4 linked regions of the Homo sapiens genome follow. The protein of the gene in region 2 interacts with the protein of the main gene of each other region in a pairwise test. Each region holds a gene or a part of one and is shown on either strand. Other genes may lie near its edges.

The links.
Region 1: the proteins of ELAVL4 (region 2) and PALMD interact in binary tests that used the Homo sapiens proteins (3 or more experiments, as listed by UniProt).
Region 3: the proteins of ELAVL4 (region 2) and ZKSCAN8 interact in binary tests that used the Homo sapiens proteins (3 or more experiments, as listed by UniProt).
Region 4: the proteins of ELAVL4 (region 2) and TM6SF1 interact in binary tests that used the Homo sapiens proteins (3 or more experiments, as listed by UniProt).

Annotation. Positions count from the first base shown.
Region 1 is NC_000001.11:99,691,107-99,695,067, forward strand, and holds the end of PALMD (palmdelphin), read left to right. Parts: intron 1-2,912; coding exon 2,913-2,956; 3' UTR 2,957-3,429; downstream 3,430-3,961.
Region 2 is NC_000001.11:50,195,894-50,202,931, forward strand, and holds part of ELAVL4 (ELAV-like protein 4), read left to right. Parts: intron 1-1,535; coding exon 1,536-1,574; intron 1,575-4,915; coding exon of another isoform or gene 4,916-4,957; coding exon 4,958-5,285; 3' UTR 5,286-7,038. UniProt on the Homo sapiens protein: RNA-binding protein that is involved in the post-transcriptional regulation of mRNAs. Plays a role in the regulation of mRNA stability, alternative splicing and translation.
Region 3 is NC_000006.12:28,151,862-28,158,899, forward strand, and holds part of ZKSCAN8 (zinc finger protein with KRAB and SCAN domains 8), read left to right. Parts: coding exon 1-75; intron 76-399; coding exon 400-523; intron 524-1,194; coding exon 1,195-2,156; 3' UTR 2,157-7,038. UniProt on the Homo sapiens protein: May be involved in transcriptional regulation.
Region 4 is NC_000015.10:83,110,607-83,117,644, reverse strand, and holds part of TM6SF1 (transmembrane 6 superfamily member 1), read right to left. Parts: intron 4,908-7,038; exon of another isoform or gene 4,849-4,907; coding exon 4,745-4,848; exon of another isoform or gene 1,937-4,744; coding exon of another isoform or gene 1,904-1,936; intron 1,801-1,903; coding exon 1,703-1,800; intron 1-1,702. Other genes in the region: HDGFL3 (hepatoma-derived growth factor-related protein 3), read left to right, coding at 1,904-1,936. UniProt on the Homo sapiens protein: May function as sterol isomerase.

The sequences.
Region 1 (3,961 bases), about 49 Mb from region 2:
ATGGAAAGTTGCAGATACTAAGTTTCTTTCCATCTTAAGAGAGAGCTTTGGTCACTGATCAAACTTTGCCATCTTAAACTCATTTTAAAAACAAAAAACACAGAAGACTTAGAAGAGAGGAACACACTGTTTACGGTCAATAGCAGTGACATTATCCACTATAAAACCTCCCTTTTCTGAACTTGGATATTAGCCAGCTCCTCCTGAACACCCTTATTTCTTCTCCTCTAACCTTGTCAACACATTTACCCCATGGAAAATGACAGGAAGTGACTAACATTTCCAGACAACACTAATCATGCCCCTGAACTAAAATAATGAAAACAGGAAAACCTATTCCAGACAAAGTAACAATACAGAGTTCTGTATTATCAATCAAAGTATCTTATAAACAGAATGCTCCAAATTCCTTGCCTTCCACCATGATATTGTTTTACATTGCTGTTTTCCAATTCGGCATACAGACTACAGAGCTGATGTGTATTTTTTAAGTAGGTTTTAAAAATAAGTAAGTCACAGTGTCATATGCCCTCACATGCCATCCATATACAAAGAATACATAACCACCTACGTACTTCCATTTCACAAACACCAAGTGGGTTGAGCTTCTCCCCATAACTCCCCCAAAAAACGCTTATGATACTTGAAAACTCACCATTTAGGTCAATTCCTTTATTTATGGTATAAATCCCCTATTTAATATAAATAGCCCTGGTAGGCATAATAGTTAAGAATTGTTAGTCTCTTTTCCCTTGGTATAAATATGGTTATCAATACCTTATCTAAGAGCAATTTTAATTTGGAAAACAGCGTGAAGAAGAAAGAAATGGAAAAAGGTGGACCCTGGAGATTCAAAAGACAAGATTTTTTTAGTCAAAATTTTGAACAGAGTAAGACATGACAGAAAAATTCAGGCAACATTATGTCCATCTGCTTAATGTAAATATAACATATTCATAGGATAAAGCTCAATGCCAGACACTTCCACCATTGCATGGCCCCAGCCAGCTTTGCATGGGAACTCACTGCTACCCCTACCAATCAGGGGGTAGTAGTTGGCTTTCTTTGGTAGTCCTCACCAACCTATTCTTGTACTTCCAGCTCTATTCTGTCCTCTTAGAGGTGTCAGTGGCATTCCAGGATGAAGTGGTGGGGATCTCAGCTCTGGGAGTTCATATGCTACTGGTGCTGATTGCCAACCTGCAACAGCCATTAGAGTCCAAGGGATAATGAGAGTAAGGAGACTTCTATCAAGTTCAGCCAGCTGAAACCATGCATCTAAAATGCTATGGGAAGAAGAGGCAGGGATCAGACAGGAGCAGAAAATAGAAGTAAAAAAGAGAGCTGATGGCCCAGGGTTTTTAGCTGCTAAACCAAGCCTTCTATTGCCAACATGCTCTGGCCCCATGCATTTACTGGAACTCACACTACCTACTTGCCATAGGCTTGAAAAAAGGAAAGAAAGGAAAGCAGACTCTAGCAAACTTCTCTGAATGTCCACAGCACACAGGATGTGCCTGATTTACGGAATCTTACAGTGAGGAGTGACTGTAAGAAAAAGCAATTTGCCCGTGACTTATAAGAGACTCAAAAAGCCCCTCACTCCTACTCTCTTTTGTTGGTAGGGGCAAGATAGAGGTCCATAAAATCCAACAGTATAAACTTCATAAAGACTTGCCTTCTGCCTTCTGCCTTCTGTTCACCTTCTGCTATGTAACTACAGCCTCTGCCAGCAATCGAGACCTGCTTGCTACAGAGCACATTCTCTCAGTTCATCCTAAATTCTAGGGAATATTCTTGGCCCTGCCACTAGAACTGATCATCCCTGTTAAAGTTTCAAGGGAAATAATGCTCTTTAGCTTCATTGAAATTAAAATATTTCATATAAGTGGAGTGACAATTAAAATAATCATGGTCTTGTTACAGAATTAGATCCCATCCCTTCTCATATTTGTGCAAAAAGGTTTCTTAGGTATGGGGTCATTTCCATTGTCAAAAGGTAACCAATATATGGTATACAAATGAGAAAACATGTCTTCCATTTTACTTTCCATGAGACAAAATTGTGCAATCAGTTACATAGCTTGTTCTTGGGCCATATTACATGTGAATGTAATATTAGATCATTAACATAATCTTTAGATCAGTGCCTTGAAAGCATCTATCAACTTTTGGAACATGACTAAGGCAGCTCTACACTGAAATCCTAAATAATAAGAATAGAATACCAGAATACTCATCCAGAATACCAGAAAAGTGTTATACATTCTAAATCTACATTTTAAAAAATGCTTTCTACATTCAATATATTATTAGCAGAGGAATATATCCAAAAAGATATATTTGCCATTTTAAAACATACTTATATCTTGACAAAGACATTTTATAATCACTCCAGCTTTTAATAACTTGTTCCTGTTGTTTCATTCGTAAAGAAATTTGTTTTTGTTATTGTATATCCAAAGGCCAGAGCTCCTTTGGGAAAGGAAGTTGAATGAGCTGAAAGCAAACACGATCATGAAATAGAGTTTAAGTGTAAACACCATTTTATTTTGGCAGTACATAACTCAGAAATGTATGTAAAACAGTCATCAACCTATAGGAATCTGTATGTATGGCTAATAGGGAAACTGTGCATTAATCCTGTATTTGTTCCACTTGTACTGTTTGCTCTACTAATTTTTCTAATCTTTATAGAAATAGGTTCCTTCTAGTTCTGAACCTGCTTCTGCCCTAAGTTAACCATAGCTTATTATTTCTACTATCTTTTTGTGCTACTAAATCAATGCTCACACTGTTGGATAAAACCATCTGAGGTATGTTCTAAACTTTCCTGCATTCTATGAATGGCCATTTAGAGTAAAAATTGAGGATTTTTTTTATAACTCTCTTTTTTTTTCTTTAATTTGCAGCTTTAAGGATGAGAATGGCAAAGCTGGGAAAAAAGGTGATCTAAGAGTTGTACCACCTATATAAACATCCTTTGAAGAAGAAACTAAGAAGCATTTGCAAATTTCTCTTCTGGATATTTTGTTTATTTTTTCTGAAGTCCAAAAAATTATCATTACAGTGTACCATATTAAGCCATGTGAATAAGTAGTAGTCATTATTTGTGAAAAATTCCCAAAAAGCTGGGGAAAACAAATGTGTAACTTTTCCAGTTACTTGACACGATTCAGTGGGGGAAAACCAGCATTTTTTATTCTATTGATACCAAAGCATTTCTAATAAGAGCTTGTTAAATTTAAGAATAAAGTTATTTAAAATATTCTGAGTATAGTATATTAACTGGCATTGTAATTTTGATGATACAAAGATTGAAAGATCATAGGAAAGCATTGCCCTTCATCACAGAAGTATTCAACTCTGACAAATAAATATGTCATCCTGAATTAATAATGCCTTAATAAAAGTACATCCTCCTGCTAACTATCACTTCAGTTGGTTTGGTAGAGACTTCAAACCCTTGCACATATCCAAAAGGTGCATCCCGTAATGATCCTCAGATTTGGGGACTGAGTTTGGATAGTCCGGCCAGTGCACAGATGATAACCGGCACATTCATTCTTCTTAAATTATCATCCTTTCTTTCACTCAGTTCAATGTGAACCCTGTGGTGCAATGACAGACTATGACCTCAGGGTGTTGGATAGAGGATGTCCCATACCCTCAAAGAGCACAGATCTGGTCTAATATTTCACTGATTCTTGTGAACAAGTTAGACAGGGGTGGCCCATCTTTTGGCTTCCCTGAGCCACATTGGAAGAATTGTCTGGGCCACACATAAAATACACGAACACTAACAGTAGCTGATGATCTAAAAAAAAACGCAAAATAATCTCATACTGTTTTAATAAAGTTTATGAATTTGTGTTGGGATGCATTCAAAGCCATCCTGGGCCACATGCGGCCCGCGGGCGGCAGGTTGGGCAAGCTTGAGTTCGAATCTTAATATTAAAAC
Region 2 (7,038 bases):
CCCCAGGAATCACTGTGCAAAACTCCCCCCGAGCCTCAGTTTCCATTCCTGTAAAATGAGACAGTTGGAGCAGATGCCCTTCTAAGCCCTCTTCCAATTTACTACTGTGACTGTATAAACTTTAGATTCTTTGGTAGAAACAAAATGTCTGTATTTAACCAAACATGAAGGTTCAGTTTCAACAAGAGTTAATCACAGATCAGTGACCACATTCAGCAGATTAGACTTAAGGCTGGACAGTGGCTTTTAATAAATTCAAAAAATAGACCATAAGGCAGATCCTTGCCAGAAGGAGTTGTTTTTCCTATCTTCTTTTCCCTCGGCAGGTAACTCTGTTGAGTTCAGGGGAGGGGGAAGTGCCTTTGGTGTTAACCTTATTATGTTAAGTCAGTAGATTCTGGGAAGATAGGGAGGAAGATCCTGTCCAAGCCTGATTAGTGTTTCCTTCAAGTACCCAACCCCCAGGAAGCTCCTGGGGCAGGGGGGCATTGCCCTTCTCCTGGGACTTTTCTAAAAGACAGGTTTCTCTCCATGAAGGCAGTATGACCTTGACTGGTCTCTATTATACAAGAGATAAAAATATGTTTGACTTACCCATGATAAATTCTAAACAATTACTTTATTCCACACCACAGCCCAGCTTCCCTTTGATGAAAATGTTTTTCTCTTTGAGAAACTTCACATGGGAAATAGTAGGTCCTTCTATCTAGGATAGTATGCTCCATCTGGCTACATGAGGAGAAAAATCATCCTCTTTCGTGTCCTCCTATGCCCTGTGAATTTGAAATGGTTAATGATTTCATGAAGAGTCCAAGTCATCTAATTTTTATTTTGCTTGAGAGCACATGCAGTATTTATGTAAAAAGCCTCTCCAGCAGACTTCTAATGGTGGAAACTATCGTTACTACTGCCCTATGGTGTGAATAGCTTGTCCCCAAGTAAGGTAGTGAATGTGAGGAAGATTATAGCGTAATGGCAGTTTGCTGGGAGGTGCTATCAGGCAGTAAACAGTAAGCCACTTTTTAAAAATCTTAACCTGCAAACTCCCCCTGCCTCCCAAAAATGTGTGTAGTAAGATGATTTAGTTAATGTAGCAAGGCTAACAGAAAAGATCTGTTCTGATACATATTGTGTGCCTGTGTATTGTTAATCTGGAACAGAGACCTTTATTTACAAGTTTAATTATAGTAAAAAGGTGAACAATTTAAGAAGCCCCCGCTTTGAACAATTTCACTACAATATAAAACAAAATCCACACAAATGTTCTGAGAGGTGGGGGGAATGGTATTAATTCAGACCTTGAAAGAAAGGGAGACTCATTAGACACTTGCTTTAAACTCTAGCAATGACCTGAACATGAATTACTTGCAGTTAGAGACAGAAAAGGGGGAAACTACCGGTGGATAGACTCCTAAGCAGTGGGGAAAGTTGTTGAGCTTTTCTTCTTTGAAAATGGAGCATTCTTATTAATAGTTCCATTGAGCGATCTTGCCATCTGTGAGGCATTAACCCAGAGACCCTCCTTCTCTTTGCAGGCTGGACAATTTGCTTAATATGGCCTATGGCGTAAAGAGGTAATTAAAACTCCACAGATTGCCAGATGTCCATGTTGGCACAGACTGGGGCTAGAATTTTTTTTTTTTAATTCACTAACTTTACTTTAAAAGAAAAAAATTCTTCCTTTTTCTTCCACCAGCATGTCAAATTCTTAATTTTAATTTCGGACCTCAGTTGATTTTGTTTCTTTTAGGGCACACAAAATGTATTTGTGTGTTTCACTTTTTCTTTTATTTGCAGGTGGGCTTCTCCTATGGTTCAGGTGCCACAGCTACCAAGCCCTTAATAATCTGGTCCTTTGAATGGCTCCCCTAAGGGGAAAGGCTCCGACTCTTTGCTGGCTGGTTTTGCAAACTTGCAGAGCAAACTGTTTTGCATTAGCAATGCCAAGATTCAGTTAAGAGGGCAGATTCCAGCAAATCAGAATTAGAACATTTTGCTAATTGTGGTTGACAATCTTATGATTTTTCAGTAGAAAAATTAGATTTTGGACTACCAGCTCTGGCCAAAGGATAAACAAACACGTGGATGACTTTCTAACTCCTGCCCCCACTTCAGTGTGCATTTCAGAGCACATCCTGAGAATGAAGTGTATCTGTGTGCACCTCAACCAGGGGTTTCTTTTGTTACAGGTTTTAACAGTTCTTATAAATCCTCCCTTGGTTATATGTTATGTGTGTTTTAAACTTGCTGTTCCTGTCACTGAAAGGCTTTTTGTGGGGTTGGGGGCCCAGAGTCAAGGCTTTTGGGGCTCTCTGAATGCAGATTCAAAGTTTTCCAGACCCAGTATGAAATCTGAATCTTGGAAAGTTGGGTGTGTGATGTCACTGTGTCCATGAGATTCCCATATGTGCTTCTGATAAGCTCCACTGCACTGCTAGGGACATAGTGTCTTCATCATCTTGCTCAGTAGAGCTGCACACTTTAATTCCCCTTCCTACAGTCAAGGGAAAGAGATGTAGTCTTTAATAGTCCACATCACACCCCCAGTTCTTTCACTGGCCATCCATGGTAAGTACCCTGACTCTGGGAACTGGTGCATGGTAGAGGAAGTAACCTGACTGCAGACTTCACTATCAGAGGACCGGCCTTTCAAATCTCAATCCCAGCATCAATGAGGATAACTATGAATTATCTCCACATTTCCAGCACACTGTTTGCCTGTTCCCAGGGATTTTACATCTTTCCTAGCTCTATCTCATTCCTTTGCTCCTCTCTGATGTTAGTGAGGTAGTGCTAAATGTTGTGAAAAGAGAAATGCTTATAAATAGATAAGATAGGGGAAGACACAGCTGTAGTAGGCCTGCCACCACCTCCTCCACTGCCCCACCCAGAGTAAACATCACTAGCTGATAATAGCATTCTCTTTTCCTATTGAACCCAGATTTGGATTTAGAACGCTTCCTACCAAAATGCTGCAATTAACTGTCACCAACTAGGATAGAGGCTGTACTTGCAATCTCTTTGCTGGCCCTGACCTTTGACTTATAATAAATACTTAGCTGTTTTCTACCTATAAACAGAAAGAGGTCAGTTCACCAGGGTCAACTCACTTGGTTGGAGGATAGAATATTAAAAAGACAATCTTCAGAAATGATACAAGTTACAAATAGACATGGATTTGCACGTCTAAGGATCTACACCATGATATTTTTTGGCTTTTTCTTGTTAATTGTTTTTAAACAAGAGGGAAGATTGACTTAGTGAATAATAGCAAAAATATTGTCTATTGAGTTGTTATATTTAGCATATATTCAGTAGCCATTTGATTATCCAAATTCTAGTTAGATACAGAACTATTCTTTAATAGGACTTTCAAATCTCCAAGAATATTTGCTTATTTTTAAAAACAGTTGTAGCTCACACTTTACACCATGCTCTTCCCTAGTTTTTGCTTTCTCTCCTTTTCCTATCTCCCCCAGTAAAACCCTGGCCAAATGAAAAGCAAGAAACTATTCAGTGTATAGCATCAAAAATCCGTATATAAGCTCATGCCTGTAATCCCACCATTTTGGGAGGCCAAGGTGGGTGGATCACCTGAGGTCAGAAGTTCAAGACCAGCCTGGCCAACATGGCAAAACCCCGTCTCTACTAAAAATACAAAAAAATTAGTCAGGCATGGTGGTGCGTGCCTGTAGTCTCAGCTACTCAGGAGGCTGAGGCAGGAGAATCACTTGAACCCGGGAGGCAGAGGTTACAATGAGCCAAGATAACGCCACTGCACTCCAGCCTGGGTGACAGAGTGAGACTCCATCTCAAAAAAAAAAGAAAGAAAGAAAGAAAGAAAAAAAAAGAAAAAAGTCCCTATGTAAGTTTGATATGAAACAAAACATTAACAAATATTGTTCTGCTATAGGCACTGGTAACCTAATTGTTTCATCTGGTACATCCCTCACAAATTACACAAGGATTTATTTCATCAGACAGTGAATAGAATTTAAAGGGTCATTTTTTCTTTTCAGGATTGCACAAAAACTGAGAAGATTTCTAAACCTAATACAAAAGCAGTTGTAATAGGGCAAATAACAATTCTATGCTTTTCTAATGTATAGCGATTCAAGATATATAAATGCACAAACCACTTGCAGTCTTGCTTCAGTGATACTTAGGAATAAATTCCAGATAACATAGCATAAAGGAGTAATACATCTTTATTATTATTGCTTGAGTTTGTGGGGGAAACCCTTTTGAATAAATGCTAAATGAAACATGAACCACCCATCTGTTTAATAGCAAGAAAGGCCTGTTCATTGTCACGTATCTCCATCCTCACCAAGAAACATTTGACAACCGTAGGTCAAGGGAGTGCAAAAATGGTAGACTTAAGCACTTTAGGGCCATCTCCTAATCTGCCTTTAAAAAAAAAAACAATGAAATTTCCCAAGCACTGGCCAAAGTGAGTCACTTATTCAACCAATAAATATTTATTGAGCATTTTCTATGTGTCACTATATCTGTGAGATTCCCATATGTGCTCCACTGAATAAACAAATAGAGCCACAGAATGAATGAAATAGACCCTTTCCTCCAAGAGCACATTGTCTATTGTTGGGGTGGGGTGGAGTCGGGGTGGGGTGGAGTCAGGTTGGGGTGCGCTATGAGCATATACTGTGATAGAACTGTTACAGAGCCTTGCTCTGGGAGCCCTGGGAGTCCCTTATGGTTTTTAGAAATTGACCTAGGTCTTTCTCTCAGCATGAACATGCCCTAGCCAGTCAAGCCATTCCCATCAGAGGAAATGACATAGACATTAGTTTTTACATTTTGGTTTTTGAACCCTGAAGACTCTCCTGTAAACACTCACTCAGCCCTCTGCCCCATGTCTGTGTCTGTGCATCTGTGTGTTATCCTTGGTCAGACTGATGTCTGGACCAGTCCCCCCTTCTGCTTGTCCCCCCAGGTTCTCCCCAATTACCATTGATGGAATGACAAGCCTTGTGGGAATGAACATCCCTGGTCACACAGGAACTGGGTGGTGCATCTTTGTCTACAACCTGTCCCCCGATTCCGATGAGAGTGTCCTCTGGCAGCTCTTTGGCCCCTTTGGAGCAGTGAACAACGTAAAGGTGATTCGTGACTTCAACACCAACAAGTGCAAGGGATTCGGCTTTGTCACCATGACCAACTATGATGAGGCGGCCATGGCCATCGCCAGCCTCAACGGGTACCGCCTGGGAGACAGAGTGTTGCAAGTTTCCTTTAAAACCAACAAAGCCCACAAGTCCTGAATTTCCCATTCTTACTTACTAAAATATATATAGAAATATATACGAACAAAACACACGCGCGCACACACACACATACACGAAAGAGAGAGAAACAAACTTTTCAAGGCTTATATTCAACCATGGACTTTATAAGCCAGTGTTGCCTAAGTATTAAAACATTGGATTATCCTGAGGTGTACCAGGAAAGGATTTTATAATGCTTAGAAAAAAAGAAAAAAAAAAAACAAAAAATACCTTTGATGCATTGAATGTTCTTTCATAGCTGTCGTTGTTGAATATAATATACATAGATAGCGATGTGCAGGGATTTTTACCCAGCCAGCTAACTTTACTACCTTCCTTGAAGGTGGATCTTTTTAAGATGACCATTCGCTCATTTGAAGAAGAAAAACAAAAAACAAAAAAAATAATAAAAATAAAACAATTTTTACAAAGTAATGGGATTCAAAGAAAGGAAAAAAAGATTTTTCTTTTTTGTCAAAATATCGATCCAATCAGATTGGTAAAAACCCCCACACAAATTAAAGAGGAATAATAAAAATTGCAAAAATAAAAAAAAACTTTTGCAAATTTTTTTATTTTTCCTTCTTTCTTTTATATCATGTGAACTAAAACAGTCTTCTGTTAGGGGATGGGGGCAAGGGGGATACCTGATGACATTAACAATTTAATAACATTAACATTGTTGCCAAAGAGGTGGTCTCTTTGCTGAAAATGGGTTTCAAGAAAAATCTATTTTTATAAAATATAAAGAATTTTTACAAGAGAATCTGGATTTGAGAAAAAAATATTTTGACTGGCTAATTTAGGGGAAATTGACAACTTTGTCGCGTTCATACTGCACTGGTAACTTTTTAGAGATCAAGATGTGTGTTTTAAACTGGATTCGTAGACTGTTTTTTGAAGGATGGGCTATAAACAGATGATCTTCATATCTTTTCATAGCATGTAATAATAATTAAAAAACAATTATTAATTACTAGGGGAAAGGAGTGTTCGTTCTACCCAGGGTACCACAGTTCCCCACAGTCAAAACCCAAAAGCAAGGAGATGAGTTGAAAGACAGTTTTTCTTTAAGTCATCAGTATGGGATGTCAGCAGAACAAAAATTAAAAAGATTAATTTTCCTTTTGATCTAAAACTTCCTTAGTTTGAGCAGTAGGTGCTACAAAATTATTTACATATCTTAGTATCATAGTTAAATGTAATGTGTTTAGGAGAGGAAAACAAAAGATACATTTGCTTTAAATTCATTAAGAAATTTTCAAATTCACTTTGTAGCCCATGCTGATAGAATTGGGCTGTGTTGGTACATTTGAAACACTGTTTATGTTGCTTGAAACACTTATTTATTTAATCGCCGATGTGATGATGCCTATGGCCGAGATCAAATATAGCTAGATTGGCTAGACTACTTATTTGTTTACTTAAACTATGGGAAGAAGCATATTATTGTGTCATTCTGTTGTGTGTGTATGTGTATATACAATATAAATATATATATATAAAGTTATTTTTTCTTTGGGTTAATTTATTATAAGTTGTAACACTTGGCTAGTTTTGTTTGTATATGTCTTAAAATGTTTTCTTATGATATTTAAGTGACAGTTAAAGAGGTATCAAGGTAACTTGTGTAGAACTATTCTTTGATATATTGTCATGTTTGTTGTGAATATTTTTTCTTACTGCACAGTAGAAAAATAAAAACAACTGAGTCTTTATTTTAATGTAACTCAGATTGGGGAAAACAAAA
Region 3 (7,038 bases), on a different chromosome or scaffold from region 2:
AGTCCTACTCGTTCCCAGAAAGGAAGTTCTGGAGACCAGGAAATGACAGCTACACTTCTCACAGCAGGGTTCCAGGTGAGTTGTGCTCCTTCTCACTGAAACGCCATAGCTGTGCTTGTCAGTGTTTGTGGCATCTGCCCTATATCTTGACTGTCTAGTTTGTAGCAGTACCTACCCAAAAAGTTGTCCCAAAAATTCTTTTGCCTAGGGACAGATTGATCCTGAATTTCCCCCAGTAAATCTCATGCATTTTCCTCTTCTTCCTAGCTATTCAGATCCCTTTACATAGTACATTCCCAAGTTGTAATTCTCTCCCAATACTGGTGGATCTCTCAAGCTCTATAGGTTTGAGCTGTGGAACAGTCCCAGTCCCCAAATGGGGATCTTGTTTTGTTTCAGACTTTGGAGAAGATTGAAGACATGGCTGTGTCCCTTATTCGAGAGGAGTGGCTTCTTGATCCATCACAGAAGGATCTGTGTAGAGATAACAGGCCAGAAAATTTCAGAAACATGTTCTCCCTGGGTAAGGAGAGGTGTGGTTATTATTGTCATTTTAGATTTTTTGTTTGTTTGTTGTTTATGTGTATAGTAGCTACAGCCTTTCTGAAAGACATAGTTAAGTTTAACTCAGGATCCAGCAGAGGGATATGATGTTGAGATTTCTTGAAATCTTACGTGAAACTTTTGTTCTCCTGTCCAGAACTTCCTTACATTTTGTACCAGGGTACTGGCGTTTTTGCCAGTTGGAAATTGACATCTCAGAGGTGCTCTCTGAGTTCATATATTTCTTCTCCAAGTTGTCATGGGATTCCTACATATATTTTTCTCACATAAATTAATTGTATCTCCTCCCTTTTGATGACTGGGCATTTTCCCATTTCTGTCCTGCTCATTAGTTCTTTTAGTAGTTCCATATTCCTCTCCCCAACTTTCACCTCACTTCAGTTCATCCTTTCCTGACTTTAGTTCCCCTTCCAATTAACTCTCTTTTTTTAATGGTACCTCTTTCCCAGTTGACTAGCTCATATTAAGCAAGGTCACTATTAAGAAGCTATTTTGGAGACAGAAGTTTTGTGTTTACTTATAGCTGTTCATGTGTACTTTCCTTTTCCCCTATCTTCAGTTCCTTTCTCCTAGCATAAAGAATAGGTTGTGACATTGGCTTGATGTTTGTTTATTACATTTTTATTTCAGGTGGTGAGACCAGGAGTGAGAACAGGGAATTAGCTTCAAAACAGGTAATATCTACTGGAATCCAGCCACATGGAGAGACAGCTGCCAAATGCAACGGGGATGTTATCAGGGGTCTTGAGCATGAAGAAGCCCGAGACCTTCTGGGCAGATTAGAGAGGCAGCGGGGAAATCCCACACAAGAGAGACGACATAAATGTGATGAATGTGGGAAAAGCTTTGCTCAGAGCTCAGGCCTTGTTCGCCACTGGAGAATCCACACTGGGGAGAAACCCTATCAGTGTAATGTGTGTGGTAAAGCCTTCAGTTACAGGTCAGCCCTTCTTTCACATCAGGATATCCACAACAAAGTAAAACGCTATCACTGTAAGGAGTGTGGCAAAGCCTTCAGTCAGAACACAGGCCTGATTCTGCACCAGAGAATCCACACTGGGGAGAAGCCATATCAGTGCAATCAGTGTGGGAAGGCTTTCAGTCAGAGTGCGGGCCTTATTCTGCACCAGAGAATCCACAGTGGAGAGAGACCCTATGAATGTAATGAGTGTGGGAAAGCTTTCAGTCATAGCTCACACCTCATTGGACATCAGAGAATCCACACTGGGGAGAAGCCCTATGAGTGTGATGAGTGTGGGAAAACCTTCAGGCGGAGCTCACATCTTATTGGTCATCAGAGGAGCCACACTGGGGAGAAACCCTACAAATGCAATGAGTGTGGGAGGGCCTTCAGTCAGAAGTCAGGCCTTATTGAACATCAGAGAATCCACACTGGAGAAAGACCCTATAAATGTAAAGAATGTGGGAAAGCTTTCAATGGGAACACTGGTCTCATTCAACACCTGAGAATTCACACAGGGGAGAAGCCCTACCAATGTAATGAGTGTGGGAAAGCCTTTATTCAGAGGTCAAGTCTCATTCGACATCAGAGAATCCACAGTGGTGAAAAATCTGAATCCATAAGCGTTTAGGAACAACATCAGTTAGAGTTTGAGCATTATTCAGCATTAGGGAAACCACACACTGGTGAGAGGTCTTTCAGTGTACTAAAAGGCAGAAAGGTCATCACAACTTTAGTGTCAGAATCTATAGTGGTGGCAAAGTTAGGATAGCTCTTTAGTAATTTGGGCCCAGTGCCTTGGTGAAGGTTGATTAGCTTGACTGTCTTTGAAAGTATCTGATGGAGCTCCTGATGACCTAATGTATCCTTTAGAAATTTAAAATAGCATTAGAGCAAGTTGCTTGTCATGGCTTGAAGAGCTTAACTTTGTCTTTTGGGTGAGTAGCTATAGGTTTGAGAGAGGCTGGCTACTCCTAGTTCCTGTGCTTCTTCCCATCTCCTGTGATCCCCCTCTCCCATTTATTCCCTTGAAGGTGCCCTTGTATTCCTAATCTGATCTAAGAAGCTGCTGTAGAGTCAGAAGTAGCTTCTGTGTGAAACTTATATTTGTATGTAGCTTTCTAGGAAAATTTTACAGACACTTAAAGTATTTATGCTTAAGTGTGCATTTTTTTATTCTAATATTCCTTCTAGTCAGTGGAAATTTGTATTCCCATACAAACTCAGAATGCTATATTTTTAACAGCACTCCAGCATTTTTCTTCATGTATCACCTTCACTGACTCCATTGAGTCATTGAGCATCTGTACATATCCTTCACCACCCCCAGTCCCAGCACCTGTGTCAGTAAAGAAAGTGGACACATTAGTAATGGTTATGGGAGTAATACAGAGAAAGAGGTGAGTGGAGACTCAGCCCAGCTGCTCTTGAGCTTGGATAGTTATACATTTTGGTGACTTCTGACTCTCCTTCCACCTCCCCACTGTACACTGTGGTACAGATAGTTGGCACTATCCTAGTTATGGCATCAGGTAGGAGAAGGAGACGAAGATGCTTTAGGAAGATAAAAACCTTACAAAGAATGTATACTCATCTTTTTTGGCCCATTACAATACTGCTTTCTCAGGTTCTTAACAGCCTGTGCAAACTCCCTGACTAGATGGTCTGTCACTCCTATCATTACCTTGCACCCATCTCTTTAGATGGCCTCAGCACCTCACTCGTTATTCTCCATCTGTTTCTTGCCATTAGTTTATATGACTTTAATATCCACAGTGGTAATCTAATACCTTACCTCACAGGTTTTCATTCTTTTGAACTCTGGTGCACTCCATCTGTAATCCATGTCTATAATCTACCAACAAAGATGTACTCTTAAACTCAGTATCACCAGGCACTATATTTCATCTTTGAGGCTTTTGTTATACCAAGGAATACTATATAAAGTAATGAGACTGGTTTAAAGTAACATGCCAGAACTTACGCATCCAATGTGGGTTGTCACTTGTTATTCCCAAGTACTATTATTCCATACTACTATATTCTTCCAAATATTTGGAACACTCTTAGAATTCCCATTTAATAAACCATATGAGAAAACCCTCTATTACTCTTACACTTTAGTTTTACCATTTGAGTAGCCACTTATTCACCAGAGTTGGAATTGAGAAATTTTGGGCTTTCCAAAATTAACCTTTAAACTTAAAATTGATTACATTGAGCCTATTCAGAAAAAAAATTATATAGGTTCTGATGAAAGCTTCATAATTTCACCCTGTGACTATCCTGAAAAGAAATAATAATCATTTTATGATTGATGGGCCAAAAAAAGCAATCAAAGTCTTACGTCATAGAGGACCACCTTTTGGATCATAAATTCTTTCCCTATAACATTCCTTCTCTGCCTCTCTATGGCCCACTTTGACCACTAACAACATCAGAATTATCTACATCAATTTCATTGAGCCATTGGTGAATGAAGACACCCATCACTTGTCATGTTGGTTTCCAACAGTCCTTTCGATTATCCTTTATTTTCTTATCCTCCCTTCTCTTGTTTCTTTTATTTATAAGTTACCATTCCTAGTTTCTTTGTACTTGAAATTTTAAGAAACCAGAAACAAGTAAATCTGGTTGTATCTAGATCTTTGCTCTGTGTTTCAGTTGTGCCTTACCCTCTGTAAGATACTGATTCTTCCTGGGGCCAGTATTACCTTGTATGCAAATATTACATATGATGGGTGCATTGTCAGAGGGAAAATATATGTGTATGTACACATGTGTATGTACACACACACACACACCTGCCATACACTTTAGAAGAACGCTTCTCTTCTATTCCAATAAAAAGTCCTTTTAGCAATGCAACATATTAACAAAATTGGGTGCATTCAGGGTGGTATGGCCATAGACCAGAGCAACACATTGAAATGTATACAGATGTACTAGCTAAAGTCTCTTTATGTGTCAGTATTAAGAGTAATATGTAGCCAGATTACTTAAATCTCAGAATTACTAAGCATGTGGCATAAATTTGGAGAAAATAATATGACTAGAAAAATTAGTGTTATATTGGGTGTGAGAAAAGACTGTGTCTTGAAAGAATTATCAAAGCTGATACAGCACATATACAGAATTAGCCAAATGGTATAAGACAATAGAAAAAGGCTGTGGATTCTTTGAGGACATCACTAGAAATCATTCTTTGTCTCAAGTTCACACTCTTAGCATAGAATATTATTGACTAGGCTGTATGACATTTTGAGCTCTTAACTGTGAATGGCATTCATTAAGCTCCTTTATCCTATAGATTCTATCTTTATGTTCATCTGAAATGAACTATTCATCAGTACTTTCTCCTCCCATCCTAAGCTTCTCATTTTAGGAACTGACATGATAAGGTGGTTCTTTCATAACTCTAATGCCATCCAACATAGCCCTGGGAGAGGCATGTTAGGTTTCAGAGATTTTCTCCATGGAGCAAGGTGCAGTGCTAGAATATGGTGGTTGATTCCCAAACAGAGCAGTTAACTTTACTCTTGGTTCTGAGTCTCCAAATAATAATAGCCGACGTTTATTGAGCACTTACTATGTGCCCAACCCTGTTATGCCTTTCTCAGGCTCATGATAAATGTATTAGTCTGTTCTCATGCTGCTATTAAAGACATACCTGACACTGGGTAATTTATAAAGGAAAGAGGTTTAATGGACTCAGTTCCACATGGCTGGGGACGCCTCACAATCATGGTGGAAGGCAAGGAGGAGCAAATCATGTCTTATACATGGATGGCAGCAGGCAAAGAGAGAACTTGTGCAGGGGAACTCTTTATAAAACCGTCCGATCTTGTGAGACTTATTCACTATCACAAGAACAGCACAGGAAAGTTCTGCCCCCGTGATTCAATTACCTCCCACTTGGTCCCACCCACGACACGTGGGAATTGTGGGAGCTACAATTCAAGATGAGATTTGGATGGGACACAGCCAAACCATATCAATAGGTATTATTTTATCCCCCATTTTATAAATGAGGAAACGGAGGCTTAGTTGAGTGAGCTGACCAATATCACCCAGCCAGTATGTGATAAAACTGATTCTGACCCACACAGTTTGATTCTAGAGCCTGTTCTGACTACTGTGCTAAGGTGTGTATAATGAACATGGTAATTCTAACCAGCTTTTTAAAAATATGTAGCGCTTGTCATGAGAGGTACTGGGGAAAAGAATGTGCAGTAGAGTGCAAATACATTACAATTACTGGAAAATTGGTGGAAAATGCTTTTTGGGGTTACAATTATATCATTTTTAAGTGTTGATGCTTTGTAGTACTACAAAGCTAAATTGTGCAAACAAAACATATTTAACAGAGTAATTGGGAGGATAAAGCAATAATAAATTCAAATATATTTTTCTCCAAACTGCCAAAGGGAAAGTAGAATTGTGGAGGGAAATGAAATATCCATGTACCAGGCCAGGCAGATGGTCAGTTAGGATGACAATAGTAAGTTCATCTACAGCATAAAATGTGAAATGCTTTCATCCTCATTGCCCATTTCCAACTACCATTCTGTTTCTCCTCTATTGTTCATGGTTTTTCAAACATATCTTTGATTTTTCAACCCCCCTTTTTCATTAATCTGTTCTTAAAACTTCTTTTTACTGGCTTTCATACTTAGCATTCCAGTGAAATGTTCTTAGACTCACCAGTGGACAAATAATAAGGCCTTTTTTTATTATTATTTCTTGTCTTTTTTGATCTAATTTATATTTTATATTGTTGAATTCTCCCTCCTTTGGCTTGTGGGATCCTTTTTCTCTAATATCTGTCTTTCTTTTTTTAGTTGATCTTTCCACCCACTCCCCTTTCTCCTCTTCTCCACTGAGAATAATCTCCCTGTCTTTTATTCACTTCATTTTCTATACTCCTATTTATCCATTTTGATTGTTTATACCTACTATTTGTATTCGAATGACTTCATTTTTCCCACCCTGTGGGTCAGTTTGTGACTTTTGGAATTTTCCACAGGTACCTGTACAACTTGATATTTGAAAACAGGATTCATCACCATATATCCCCAGCCCCCGTTTTCTTTTTAAACAGGCCTCATTGCGTAATTCCTTTGCCCTGAAAAGTGTCACCACCTTTATATTTTTACCCCAGCCTTGGAGTTATCTTTTTCTGCTCTCCATTCTCCATGTCCAAAAACTTGCTGTCAGTCCAGTTTTTAATCAGTTTTCTCCTTGAGGCTTGATCTCCCATTTCTCTCATCCCATTATAGCTTTTCATGTAGATCTGAGGCCCAGGTTACTGTAATTCTTTTTTTTCCAATTTCCTTGCTCCCAGGATCCCCATCTTGTATAAAGTTTCTAAGGTGCTCCTCCTCAAACTCCATTTTTACAATATCCGTATTGTAAAATTTTCATTTTCAGTAACACCCAGTAGATAATTTTTCAAAGACGATCCTCCTCAAACACCCATTTTTACAATATCTCTATTGTAAAATTTCATTTTC
Region 4 (7,038 bases), on a different chromosome or scaffold from region 2:
CCCGTCTGCCCCAATGCTTACCACCCTTGCCAACTCAGCCTCCAGCCCTCTCGTCAGCCGCCTCCTTCCTAAAACCTCCCTCCTCTGGGCTCCATGGCCCCCACTCTCCAGGTTTTCCTTCTGCCTCTTGGCCTGCCCCCCATGGTCCACTTCAGGGGCTTCTCTTCTTCTGGCCATGGTCTCTAAAGTCCCAAGCTCAGCCCTTTTCTCTCTCTACCTTCTCATAGGCAAGCCCTTCTCCTCTCAGACATTCAGGTACCAACTGCACTCCGATGGCCCGTGACTCTCTCTTCCAGGACTGCTCCTCAGAGCTCAAGACCTGCAAAGCCCTGCCAGCATCTGAAACTCCACCTCCCCATAGAAACTCAGCCTCATCCTTGCAGATTGGTGCCCCAGGGAGAGGCACATGCTCTTTCTCCTCTCCAAGCCTTTGCCCAAGCTGTCCCTTCTCTCCGGAATTCCCCCTACCTCCCTGGTCCATCTGGAAATGTCCATCTTCCACTGCCATGACCATTTTTAAAATGCTACAGCAGTGTCACCAACTCAATAAGCCTTCCCCGACTGCACCCAGACTTAATTCCTCCTCTGAGTACTTCTGTGCCTGGAGTGAGTCTCTCACTGTGCCTGGGACAATTCCATCTCCCCACCCTTTCAGGCAGGGAGCTCCCAGGGGGCAGGGAGCAGGTCTTCTGACCACAGAGTCCCCTTCAACAAATGTCTGCAGAAATAAATTCCTCCTGTCATCCCTCTCTGGTGTAAAAACAGCAGCATTCTTCCAAATTCCAAAGCAGGAATCAGGACACTGTCTTAGGCCTCATCCTTCCCATCACTCCCAATTTGTCCCCAAGTCTTATTCATTCCAGCCACTCCGATTCTCTAAAGTTCATCCCTCTCTCTACTTCCCATGCGCTGCCTCCATCCAGCCACGTTTATGCCCCTGCTGGTCCCGAGGAAGCCTCCTGACTGGTGCCCCAGCTCATGGCACGGACCCTTCCCTGCAAGCCCATCCTTCCCAGAGCTGCCTGTATTCTTCACTGACTTAAAATCTTCCCTCACAGACAGGATAAAACCCAAACTCCCACAGCGTACATACAAAGCTCCCCATTATCTGAACATGGATGAAGAATCTGCTTTGAGCCCTTTTCCTCATTTCCTGTGTCACCTTGAATAAGTCACTTAACCTCTCTGGGGCTGGGTTCAGCCCACCATAAAATAAGAAAATAGGACTAGCTCTCTCGAGTACCAGGTAGTATCAAAGCTATGATTTGGGCAGCATGGTGGAGAGTGCAAGCCATCACAATCAAATGACTTCATCAAGTGCCTCTGTGTTGGGTACTTTACAAATTTAAGACTGACTTGGGGTTTCTGAGATAGTCATGTATTAACAGACACATAAATACTAAATCCATTTAAGGTACCTTATTTATATTAAATACAGATAAAGGGGAAAAGCAGGTCATGTGTGCGGTCATGAGTGAGAGAAGCCGTGAGAGCTGAATGTTGGAGAGAATTGCCTCTCGTGATCTAACCGTCCTTTCTGCTCCACTTTCCATGTGACTAAGCGACCTAAGGCTATTATAGGAAATGAAAGCCTGCGTAGCGTACCTGTTCACACTAAATGAGAGGATTTCTGTCTCTGAGTAATGTGATCTGGGTTGTGGCCTTTTGGTTGAAACCTCATAATCACTAAGTGATCCCATACCTCTCTCAAGTAGTGTGTCATGAACCCGTCAATGATTCCATCTTGCTCCAGTCCTATGATGAGGTTCACCACGCTGGTAAATCCAAAAACTGCATACACTAGAGCAAAGAAAGCAGCAGTTTAAAAAGCAATAGCTCAGGAGACAATTACTACAAGCTTGGCATCAGCTAATAATAATGGAATGTTTTTCATGTTTTCCAGAAGATGCTGTGGACAATTATCGAGATAGACTAACAGAATACCCCTTCTACACACCCAGCTGGACCTCCACCTGTGTTCGCAGCTCTCCCCATCCCTGCCTAAGTACTCTCATCAAGGGAACACTCATCACAGGAGTGGAGAATGATGGTCACTGCCGGCTCAGTCACAGAAGATTCTAGCAGGCCAACTCCACCCATCCTCCACTCCCCTACAAGTGGCTGCCCAGAATCAAACCCACATCCCACATGGGCAGTGGGAGCAAAGCCAGTAACTGAGTGGCCAAGGAAGCATAGAAGTGACCACTAAGTTTAAGACAATGATTCAGGCTGGGCATGGTGGCTCAAGTCTGTAATCCCAGCACTTTGGGAGGCTGAAGCAGGCAGATCACCTGAGGTCAGGAGTTCAAGACCAGCCTGGCCAACATATTGAAACCCCGTCTCTACTAAAAATACAAAAATTTTCTGGGTGTGGTGGTGCACGCCTGTAATCCCAGCTACTCCAGAGGCTGAGACAAGTGAATTGCTTGAACCCAGGAGGCGGAGGTTGCAGTGAGCCGAGATCACACCACTGCACTCCAGCCTGGGCGACAGAACAAGACTCTGTCTCAAAAAAAAAAAAAGACAATGACTTGACGAAGTGATTCATCTCAATGATTCCCAAGCAGGCCACCTCACAGCGTGTCCAGTGTGGTTACCCTATTCCACATGGCGTATCCTAGAGACAGACAGGTGGCTGATGTGCAAGTGACAATGGCTTTCAGAAAAAAGACTAGTGATGTTAAAAATGAATACAAGAGGGTATAATTGAATATGACAGAAGGAAAGCTATACCTGTCAGAGAATCTTACCAGAGTTGTGAGCATCTCCTAAATGGGCTTAAAACTACTAGCACAAATAACTAAGAAATAATACTTTTTAAACAGCAGGTGATCAAATTTAGTGCATGTTAGTTTGTCAAAGCTGCATTTTCAAGTTGTAACAGATTGGTGCCTTAGACTATGGGATGGACATGGACAGAAGAAAAATCTGATGGTGAATATAAGAAAAGCTGTGAAAAAAGAAATGGAGAGGAGTGTGGGGATGGTTAATTCACAGAGAAGGGAAGCCGGCCTTGCCTGGAGTCAGCAGCCAGGAGTCCAGCATTCACATTCTCCCCAGAAGGAACAAAAGGCCACATGTGCCCTGTTTTGCAGATGTGCCTTCCCCACGCCTCCATGGGGGCCTTTGGCCCAGTTCTCATTGGCAGTGTCACTTCCTGATACTCATTTTCCAGAAGCCTCCCAGGTGATTAGCCATCATATGTCTCCAAGAAAGGAAGTGTTCGGCACATAATCTGCCAATGATTGCTGATGACAACACAAGTGTCAGACACTGTGTTAGCAATGACAAGGACATGGTCTCTGCCTTCTAGTACGTGAGGAGTCTGGCCTTGAGCCTCACCCTGAGGCTGCAGTGTACTCAAAGTTGTAACAGACCAGGACAGAGGGCTGAGGGTACAGGAGAAAGGGTGCCCAGCCTTGAAGAGTCAGGAGAGACATCAGTACAGTTAATACAGGCTCCATGGAGTGGGGAGGAACAGGAGGGACAGACAGCAGCAGGAAACTCATCTGGAAAGGTGTGCAAGGGTCAGAGCACAGGCTAGTGGAGAGAGCCAGGAAAAGGCATGTGGGCCTTGAAAGCAGACGGACCCAGCTCATCTAATGACTGGCTGTAAAACCTTAGGCAAATTACATCATTTCTGAAGCTTCAGAGCTTCTTATATGTGGATTGGGAGAAACTAGTTACTCACAATTCTTCCTTCCCACCCCACCTTTCCCAAGGCCCACTGTAGGCAGAGAATGCTCCCTATGCTGTTGCTGATGGGCTTGGCCCTATGCCTCATCTCAGCCATTGGAATATGGGTGGGAGTAAGATGGGGCAGCTCCAAGCCAAGGCCTTAAGAGCCACCACTTTCTTCCTTCTAGCCCCACTGTGCCTCTGTATCTGCCATGAGAAGGGCATGCCTGGGAGCTGCTGGTCCAAGAACAAGGAGTCAGAGAACAGCCCTGAAATCAACCCACAGCCTGATGCAGAGTGGCCCCAACCCACAGACCTGTGAGCAAGAAAAATAAATGTTTGTTGCTGTAGGACTTGGGGTGCATTTGATATGCAGCATTACTGAAGCAGAAACTACAGAACAAAATGCCCAGCAAGGTACCTGGCACAGGAAGTGCTCAAAGGCCGGTAGCAGCTTGGCTGGGGCAGCATGCATGATGGAAGGGCATGGGCTTTAGGGGTCAACAGCCACACGACCTTTGCCACATTTCTTAGCATCTCCAAGCCAGCTGCTTCACTTTCAAGTGGAGGGATGGTGAGGATTAGGTGAAAGCCTGCTGCTAAAGTGCTCAGGGTCATACAAGGTGCACTATAGGTGCTTGTCTCTATGGCAGGTTCCATTATTTTCCTCTTCATGCATATGTGCAGACCCAGACACCACACAGTTAAGTTCTGCACTAAGTGGGGGGGACTGCTAGTAGCAGGCTGAAGACAGGAAGCCCAGGAAGGAGCTAGCATGAGAGTCGAGGTCAGAGGTCAGAGGTCAAAGCATGCTGGGGTTGGCAGGGTGCCCTGCCTGGCCTGGCAGTAACTCTCCACCGGGATGCCACCTGGGAGAGGGTGGAGTCCACTGCCTGAGAGGCAATAGCCAGAGGCGAGGGCCAGATTGTCCTGAAACACCCCTACACTTGCAGCCACTGTTACCAAAGGGCTCAGAGTATTCACAACCAAGGAGGAATATGTGACTGAGGCTGAAAGTATTGTGTTATTAATCAGATACAAAAGATTTCCCTTTGTGGAGACGTACCATAGAACAGTGGGTCCCGGGGTGGTTTTCTTTTGACGAGGACACGAGCCAGCAGTGCTACCAGGAACAGGATGAGGGCAGCAACCCCTACAATAGTCCAGGAACTGCAACGACCAGAACAGGGAGGTGGTCACTATCAAAATAAACACATTGGTGCCTGGAATTTCCTGACTATTGAATGCATTCCCTCCTAGTGCTGCATAATTCATCCATAATTCTGCCTCTGCCTGCAGCTCCCAGCACTGTAGAGTTAGTGAAGTTTATCTGCAGCTCTTTGGCCCATCTGGGCTGCAGCCCATGACTTTCAGGGACCGAAGCCATCAGGTCCTCCTCATTCTCCTCTTATCCTGTCTCATGTGCACAGATGACACGTCTGGAGCTCCCTCTGCCTCACCCCACCCTGCTGCACCTATGGCCACTGCCCCACTGCCTCCACTTACACGTTCCTCTAACCCCTGCTCCCTAGCAGCTGACAGGCCTCACCACTGACTCTGCCACCTCCCTCAGGGCCAGTCAGAAACCCTCAGACTGAGCTCCAAGGAATATATAGGCATTACAACTAAACATGCCTTCCAGGGGACAAGAAAGACCTTATGTTATGTGTATAGTCAAATGGGCCAGAGAATGAGGCCAGGAAATCCATGGAGAAGGAGTCTGGACTAGACCTGAGGCCAGAATGAAGATAGCCCAACACCCCAGAACCAGGGCCAACAGACCAGCATCCAACCCCAAACCATAGAAACCAAGGTGAAGCTTAGTTGAGTACATCCCCTGGATGTTCTACAGGAAAGGGAGTGGCACCAAGGACAGCAGGGGCCAAAGCCGCTACTCAGTGGGGCAGCGATAGGGCACGAGGCTTGGTAGAGTTATCAGTCAGGAAACCGGGATCCTGGTACCCATTCTGTTGCTAACTGTGTCACCCTAGGAAAGTCACATCATTGCATCTATCTGTTTATTAATTAATTCAAAAACATAGCAAGCAAAAAAATGTATTCTGCACCCCTATGTGGTAGCCATTGTTGCAGGCCCTAGGAGACTGGATAAATAAGAGAAGTCCCTGCCTACATGGAGGAACCTATCTCAATGGACTCTGAGCTCTACCCACTAGGAGTTCTCCTGCAGTCCAACAGCAATACTCTCCCTCTCACACCTCCAGCACTGACAGGGCTTCCAATTCTAGACAAAATACTACCTGGCCCACTCCAATGGCCTGCTACACCAGGACCTCTTCAGATTGGAGCAGCTACAAGCACCACTCCTCAACTGAGACCCCTCCACACCACCACAGCCCAACATCGGGACCTTTGGATAACTATCACCGTCCCCTAGGAGAGAGAAAGATAAGAATAGAAGGAGGGAGGGAAGGGGGGAACAAATAGACGATGAGTGGATGGATAGATGGATGGATGATGGGTGAATGGTTGGATGGATGATGGATGAAAGGATGGATAGATGATGGATGAATGGATAGATGATGGATGAATGGATGGATGGATGATGGGTGAATGGGTGGATGATGGGTGAATAGATGGATGGATGATGGATGAATTGATGGATGATGGAGGATGATGGATAAATGGATGGATGGATGATGGATGAATTGATGGATGATGGAGGATGATGGATAAATGGATGGATAGATGATGATGAGTGGATGGATGGAGTATGGGTGAATGTATGGAGGATGGATGGATAAATGATAGATGGATCAATTCTATGATAAGAATGAGGCCGGGCGCAGTGGCTCACACCTGTAATCCAAGCACTTTGGGAGGTCGAGGCGGGTGGATCACCCGAGGTCAGGAGTTGGAGACCAGCCTGGCCAACATGGTGAAACCCCGTCTCTACTAAAAATACAAAAAATTAGCCAGGCGAGGTGGCGGATGCCTGTAATCCCCGCTACTTGGGAGGCTGAGGCAGTAGAATTGCTTGAACCTGGGGGTTGGAGGCTGCAGTGAGCCAAGATTGCACCACTGCAGTCCCGCTTGGATGACAGAGCAAGAGTCCGTCTCAAAAAATAATAACAATTAATTACATTTTTTAAAAAAGAATGAGGGTGGCTGTTTCAATGTCCAGGTGAGAAACTGAAAAATAGGAGGTTTCTGGTGATTGCACTTCAGTGGTTGCTCCAGGCTCCTCCTGTGGGGATGAGCTGAAGAAGGAGGAAGCCAGTGTGGGTCAAGAGTATGATGCTGGGCTGAAGAATCCCATGAGGGAAGAGGTGGGTGTGCTGGGTCAGCTGACAGGCATTTTAATGGTGAACAGCCTGAGGCAGGTGGTGGTCAGGTGACAAC